Homo sapiens: one gene and its partner. The protein of the gene in region 1 interacts with the protein of each later gene in a pairwise test. Each region holds a gene or a part of one and is shown in the gene's direction. Other genes may lie near its edges.

Region 1 (3,831 bases):
TTAGTAAGTGCTCGATACTATATATTTGTTATTGCTTGAAAATTAAAGATTGGTCATACCAAATGCCCACAAAAAAAAAGAAAATAGCTTTACAAAATAGAAAATCTTATTAATAAGAGAACTTTGCATAACATGAGTTAACAATTCCTAATTTGAATTGTTATGAAATTATTACTTTATGAAGTTATTTAATTACACTTATATTCAAAAAGATGATGTCTAGAATATTTTAAGCTCTATAATTTGTTGAAAGTGTATTTAATTAAAACAATTTACATTTCAATAATCCTATCTATGATAACTCTAATTTTCCAATAATAATGTATACCAGAGAACAAAGCATTACATCTATATATTGTAATAATAATTTATTTTGCATAATTGATGAATGAAAATATATGACATCTCTAACACACATCACCACTATATGTTGCAGTGAGTGCAGTCACTGAAAAACGAAACATCGGGGTAAATTTTGAAGGCTTTTGTTTACCACGTTGAGAACGAATACATAGAACTAATAGAGTTTGTTAAAGAGGAGAGTAGTCATATTTGTTTATGCGAAAGACTACTCAATTATCACTGTGGTTGATGCAGAAGAGTTACAGTGATTGAGAGAGAGAGAGAGAGAGAGAGACAGAGACAGAGAAACCGTCTTATGGCAGGGGAGCCAATGAGAAAACAATTCCATCATCCAAGGCAGATAAAAATGAGCAGCATTTGGAATAGACAGGGATAGGGCCAGATTAGAGATTAACATTTATATGAATTAATGCCAATTAAACGTTGGAGAAGAAGAGTTCCCCAAGAGAAAGATAAATTTTTGGTGTCTAGCCTGGTGAGAAATTGATGATATCATTAACTAAGAGTAGGTGAAGGATCAAATTAAATGAAGAATATAATTATTCTTGTAAATAATCTGAGCTCTGTGGATTGCTGGTGTGACCTTGGGCAGGTGACTTGTTCTCTCCATGCCTTAATATCTCAATGTATTTTTAAAAAACTTAGAACTGCCCACATGACAAGCTTGTCAAGATGCTTAAATTGGAGTATTCATTTAAGGCAGTGGTTCCCAAATTGGCCTGTATTTTGGAATCACTGGGAGCTCCCTGTCTCCAGAGATTGTGGTTTAATTGGCCTAGGGTATGGCCTGGAATTTGGAATTTTCAAAAGATCCTCAAGTAACTTTAACATGCAGGCAAGTTAAGAAACTTCTGATATAAGGAACACAAGCCAAGATATGGCATTATGTTAGGAAGAAAACAGATTATAGCCATCATCAGAGGTAGGGATTGCAGGGTGCAACCATGAGATCGAGGATAGAAACTGGGGACATCCAGATTCCAAAGTGGGTCCAGGAATACAAGCCAGTGAAGGAGGATAACGAATAAGGAGGAATGAGGAAAAGTAGAGAAAAGCAGAGTCATAAAAGTCCAAAGAAACATTTTCCAGATAATAGTCCACAATCTTAAAAATAGTAGAAAGGTGCTGTGGCATGGAGACTGTAAAGAAATCTAGTGGATTTGGAAATCAGTAGGCTACTGGTGATCTCAGCCAAGAGCATTTTCAACAGAGGGGTGAAAGCAAGAACTAGACTGATAACATTCAGTTCAGGAATGTAGAGGAAGTAAAGAATTAAACAGAAAATATTCTTTCAGCAAGTCAGACAAATAAACGACAGGATACTGTGGTGTGGTTTTAGCCAGGGGCAGTATCCTAAAAAAAGTGATTTGAATTAAATTGGAGGAGAGAACAATGAGGTTAATATTCCAGGGAAAGAACATAGTGGATAAGAGGTAATGAGTCAGGTTCAGGAGGCAGGTTTGCTAGGGCTGTGTCTGGTAGTCAGTTGATGAAGGAAGAAAATGGAAAATTAGATTTGATATGAGCATCATATAATATTAGAGCAGAAGGAAGTACTATAAATTTAGAAATCTGCATTTTACTCATTAGAAAAAAAAATATCTATCTTAAGCCTAGGTAGTTATAATACTTACCCATGACTATTCAAGGGTATAGCGAAGGCTCGTGAATAGAGTAGGGTGACCATATAATTTATTGCCCACACATGGATATTTTTGAGAGTGTTAAAATGCTAAACTGAACAGGAAGCTAGGACAACAGTTATAAAACCTGGACATATGCTCATCTTGCTTATGAGGAAACAGAAATGTGCTTGGAGGAGCAGTGAAGGCAAAATTGGTTTTTACATCCCTTTATGTATTATCATGGTAATACAGAATACTGTATTCTTAGCCATGTTGTACTTGCAGCCAGCACTGGGCCTCTGGGTCTTTGTGTTTCACCTTCTCCCAATCTAGGAGAGTATTCTTTATACATTAGACTCACAATAAATTCTCTCATCATTTCTCTATTCATCAGCTCTGTAATCTATTTAAAAATTTTAAAGGTTTTGCCAGCATTCGTACCCTTCACTTATAAATGCTCACTTTTATTTTAAGCAAGAAAGAGCCATCTGACTGCTATTCATAGCAGACAGCATAACCTATGTCCCCATATGTGCCTACAGCCAAATACTGTGATTGTTGACATCTCAATGATCATCATTTTTTTCCCCAAAGCTTTAGTGTTCCCACTGAAAGCAGTGCTATCTAGAGGCCAACCTTTCAGACAAAATAAAAAGTGAAATAACTGTTCTTTTGCCCAAAGACTTCAGACAAACACTCAACCATTCTAAAGGCTTCAAAATGCCATAAAAATTGGCCACAACCATTTGATCTTACACTTTTAGTGCAAGTCAATTTTGTATCAAGAACTGCAATACAGAGTATTCAGTCTGTTATTTTTATTACAGATACTAAAGTATTCCTCTAACACCATAGTTATGGTTAAGAAAATATATTCTGTCAGGGACTGCACCAGTTCAGGGGGTTACAGGCATGATGATAAATCAGTGACAAAGAGTTGTGATTTCAAGTAATCTCAAACTTAAGCAGCTATAGTAAACAGAATGATATCACTATGGTTAGATTCCCACATTTTATTTAAGTGCAGCCACCTTTTTTTTTGGTAAATGACAGCATTGTCCATCACTATCTGTAATCCCCAGCATAAAGGAGATGCAGACATCTGAAACCGCTCAGTTTCAGAGATGGTCCAGTGAGTCATATATCAGACGATGCTCTGATTTGTGTCTTCTTCGAGAATTTGGAATTTAATGGGGTTATATTCAGAGTGGGTTTTTGTTTGGGTTTTTTTTTTTTTTCTGGCTTTGGGTTTTTAGTTATATAAAAGACAATAACAAAGTATTTTACATGGTTTTTATAAGAACTAATCATAGTCAGTGTTTACAATTATTGTCTTCTATAGATATCAACACACTTTATATCTTATATAATTTCTATTAAATGCATACACACACACACACACAGAGAGAGAGAGAGAAATTTGTATTTATTTCATTGTATGGAGGCTGTGAGATGAAAACTTTTTCTGTGATAGGCCCTTTTCTCTCATCACCTGTTTCTCATCTATACATGACTTGTTTCTCTTAGGGGCCGTGGGGGTGCCATTCCTCCTCCCCCACCACCTGGACGAGGTGTTCTCACCCCTCGGGGAAGCACTGTAACCCGTGGAGCGCTTCCAGTGCCACCTGTAGCAAGAGGTGTCCCTACCCCTCGAGCCCGGGGGGCACCAACAGTGCCAGGATACAGGGCACCTCCTCCTCCAGCCCATGAAGCTTATGAAGAATATGTAAGTACTCTTAAGAAATAAGTTGTAAGGATGAGTTAAATTGATTAGTTAACAAGCTACGTCTCAAACTGTTCATATACCGTGAATATAGCAGGTAATGTTTGTTGCAGAAACGAA
Region 2 (3,690 bases), on another chromosome or scaffold:
ATTTTCTATTAATTTGCTATAAGTCATTGAAATGTTATAAATAATTTTCTCATATCTACTCTTTGTTCATTTTATTTCAGCCTTTAGAAATAAGAGGGCCATATGACGTGGCAAATCTGTATCCTTTTCTGAGTAAAAAGTTGTTGACATTGTCTTTCAGGAAATTTTGAATTTGAAGTCGTATTATAGTTGAACATGTATTTTTCTCAACCTTTTACTGTAAGTTTACCAATTAATAACTTCAAAAATAAATTATATAACATTATAGAGAGCTTTATGCTTCTGTTTTTTAATTAATCATGAGATAGAAAAGAGGGAATGAGGGACTTCATATGATAAAAGCTTAGAGTTAAATGAGTCTTTTCTCAGATGCATGTTCCAGTTGGACTAAGAACTGCTGTTGAATTAATTAGCCTCTCAAGATGACCAGGTTAGCTGGCACTTTCTGTTATGTTTGTGTTAGTCTCGTGTCCTTGGGTGACTCTGGGTTGAAATCTTTAATGCTCCCCCAAGAGGCTTGCTGTTTGGGCTCTCTGAAAGTGACGCCAAGGCTGCGGTGTCCACCAACTGCCGAGCAGCGCTTCTCCATGGAGGTAAGCAAGTTCTTCCAGTACAAACTGAATGGTCATGTTAAAAGCAAGTCATTTTTACAGCCATACCTATTTTTATTGCCCTACCCTACAGAGTTCCTTTGGGATCATCTTTTCTCAACCTGTTCTAAACACAGTCATCAGTGTTTTCTCACCCTCACTTCAGGCTTTACTTTCTAAAGTTTGTAGAATGAATATAGTTTTCATTACAGAAATAAGTATTGAATAGTTCTTCCAGCTATACATGTGTGCTCCTGCCGACATTTTGATAGGCTTCTAATCTCCCTTCCTTCTTCTCCCTCACCAGAAGGCCATGCTTTCCCTGTTGAAAATCTCTGTTTTAGAGAACGGATATGTTAAAAATATGTGTTAAACTATTTATTAGGAAAACAAAACCAGCAAATACATTTTTAAAAATCCAACTAACAAAACATAGACTGTAACTTTTACATTTATTATAACTCAGAATGTTTCTTTTCTCATGTTTGCTTACATGGTCAAGTTGTGTCCAGACTGTACCTTTTTTATTTTTTTTTCTTTTTCTAAATAGAGACAGAGTCTCACTATGTTGCCCAGGCTGGTCTTGAACTCCTGGGCTCAAGCAATCCTCCTACCTCAGCCTCCCAAAGTGCTAGGATTACAGACATGAGCCACCATGCCCGGCCAGACTGTACATTTTTTACTCACATTTTGTATATGTACCTTTTCACTGACTGAGTTTCCTGCTCATCAGATGTTAAAAATTGAAAGTATGCTGAAACTTTGGAAAATGAAAGTGAAATTTTATTAAAACAATTTAAGCTTTTGATCACTGTTTTGTCTTCGTTATCTTTATAATTCTTAGGACTAGTTGTAGTGGTTAAGAAGCAATTTCATTGATATCACCCAAGTGAATTTTAAACTTCAAAGTAGATTGCTACATATAGACTGAGTTATTTGTCATATGAATAGCTAGGTTATTGAGGGCTTGTGTGTTGGGCTTTATTGATCTGATTTCCACTTGAGAGAACTGCTTATGTATTGGCTTGCCGTAAATTAGATGATTTTGCTTTTAGTTTCAACATTTTTAGTTTGAGATTTTTGTATTATGTAGCCTAGAACTCATCACATAAGCTTTGGGAGTGGTCAAATTAATGGAGATTTTGAATAATGATTTTCTTGAAATTAGGGAACAGTTGGTTCACACTTTGATAGTTCTGTCATTATTTTGATCTATTTTAAATAAACATTCATCAGGATTTTGAGTAACAGTTGGGGTTCCAAAATGGACTAAACAAGAAACAGAAACTAAAATATAAATACATACATAATTTTATATATAGGAAAATAGGAAGTCCTGCATTTGACTTTAAGAACTCAGCTATTCAGCATATAACACATAATATGTAAAGTATTTTTTTTTAGAATTTCTTTTTGTGGGTACATAGTATGTGTATATATTTATGGGGTACTGAGATATTTTGATATAGGCATGCAATGCATAATAATTACATCATGGAAAATGGGGTGTCCATCCCCTCAAGCATATGTCTTGTGTTATAAACAATCCAATTATGCTTTTTTAGTTATTTTTAAATATACAATTAAATTGTATTGACTATGGTCACCCTCTTGTGCTATCATATACTAGACCTTGTTCATTCTATTTTTTTTGTACCCATTAACCATCTTCACCTCCCTCTCAGCCCCCCACTACCCTTCCCAGCCTCTGGTAACCATCCTTCTACTTTCTGTCTCCAGGAGTTCAGTTGCTTTGATTTTTAGATCCCACAAACAAGTGAGAACATGTGATGTTTGTCTTTCTGTGTCTAAAATCAGGCTTTTATAGAAGCTAAACTTAAAGAAGACTTGTGAACTTTGGGTGGCATTACCATTCACCCCAGTGTACCCAGGACAGTTCTAGTTTATGCCTGCTGTTTCTGTGACCTTATTAGCACTTCTATTCCCTGAAGAGAGTCCTAAACTAGATGATAAAATATGGTTACCCTGGTTTTCGTTGCCATTGGGATCAGTATGAGACGGTAGTATGATGTGTTCTTAAGATTGCTAATTCAGCCTAGGTAATATTAGAAGAAATAAAGGATTCTGAGACAAGGAAATTCAAAGCCTCGTTATTATACTCTCATTGATGAAATCTCAGCCGGCATCTGTATCATTCTGAGTGCCACATTTAAGAAGGACAGCAGTGCACTGAAACACTATTGGAAAATGTCTACTCAGTCCTTAAAGGGTCTGGAAGCCTCATGATGAGAGGAATCACGAGGGTGGTGCAGACATGGATACCTGGCAAGCAGAAGAGTTGGGACACATGGTAGTTAGCTTTCAACTTGGAAGGCTTGCCACAGGAAATCAGAATTAGGTTCTTTGGGGGTCCAGAAATCTAGAAACCAATGAATAGCAATTCTGAGGAGGTTGTGGGGAAAGGACAGAGGAAAGAGGCCCAAGGTCAGGGTCTTTGGCCTGTGATTGATAAAGTTCATGCCCTCAATCAGCCCCTGGACCAAAATGAACCTGTTGGGGACACCTGCCTTAGCCCCTTGTGAACAAAATTATTCACTCGTAGATAATCCTTTAGATTTTCCTTGGCAAGATGATTAAAGGAAATACTATATGTGAAAACATTTTATAAACTAAAGCATACACAAATGTAACGTCTTGCTGTTACCAAGAAATGCATTTATTTTTAAAAGACACTAAAGAAATTAATGCATTTTGTTAAAAAGTGCTGATTTTCATAATGTTTATATTTCAGTTGATTTTTAGACTATGGGTACAGAATCAGTGACATAAATTAATAGCTATAAGTGTGACGTTTTTCATTTGGTGAAATGGAAATCATTGACAGTTTTTATTTTGAGGTTCTTATTATGTTGGCATTTTAATGACCTTGAGAGCAGTTTTATCCCTTTTACAAATAAAAGTGTTTTAAAATAATTGGCAGAGTAGATTTACTAAGTTAATCTTGATAAATGGGAAAATAATGCTTAACACTTTATGGTTGACTTTACGTTTATTACTTGAAATAAGGAATAATTCATAGCTAAATTTCTGTTCAAGTTCTTTTGATTCTGCCACCTTTGTAGCTAATGGGTATCTCTCT

What was found.
Region 2: the proteins of KHDRBS2 (region 1) and RPP30 interact in a two-hybrid assay, tested with the Homo sapiens proteins (one large-scale study listed by BioGRID).

Annotation. Positions count from the first base shown.
Region 1 is NC_000006.12:61,894,518-61,898,348, reverse strand, and holds part of KHDRBS2 (KH domain-containing, RNA-binding, signal transduction-associated protein 2), read left to right. Parts: intron 1-3,515; coding exon 3,516-3,714; intron 3,715-3,831. UniProt on the Homo sapiens protein: RNA-binding protein that plays a role in the regulation of alternative splicing and influences mRNA splice site selection and exon inclusion. Binds both poly(A) and poly(U) homopolymers. Phosphorylation by PTK6 inhibits its RNA-binding ability.
Region 2 is NC_000010.11:90,895,800-90,899,489, forward strand, and holds part of RPP30 (ribonuclease P protein subunit p30), read left to right. Parts: intron 1-80; coding exon 81-118; intron 119-513; coding exon 514-593; intron 594-3,690. UniProt on the Homo sapiens protein: Component of ribonuclease P, a ribonucleoprotein complex that generates mature tRNA molecules by cleaving their 5'-ends. Also a component of the MRP ribonuclease complex, which cleaves pre-rRNA sequences.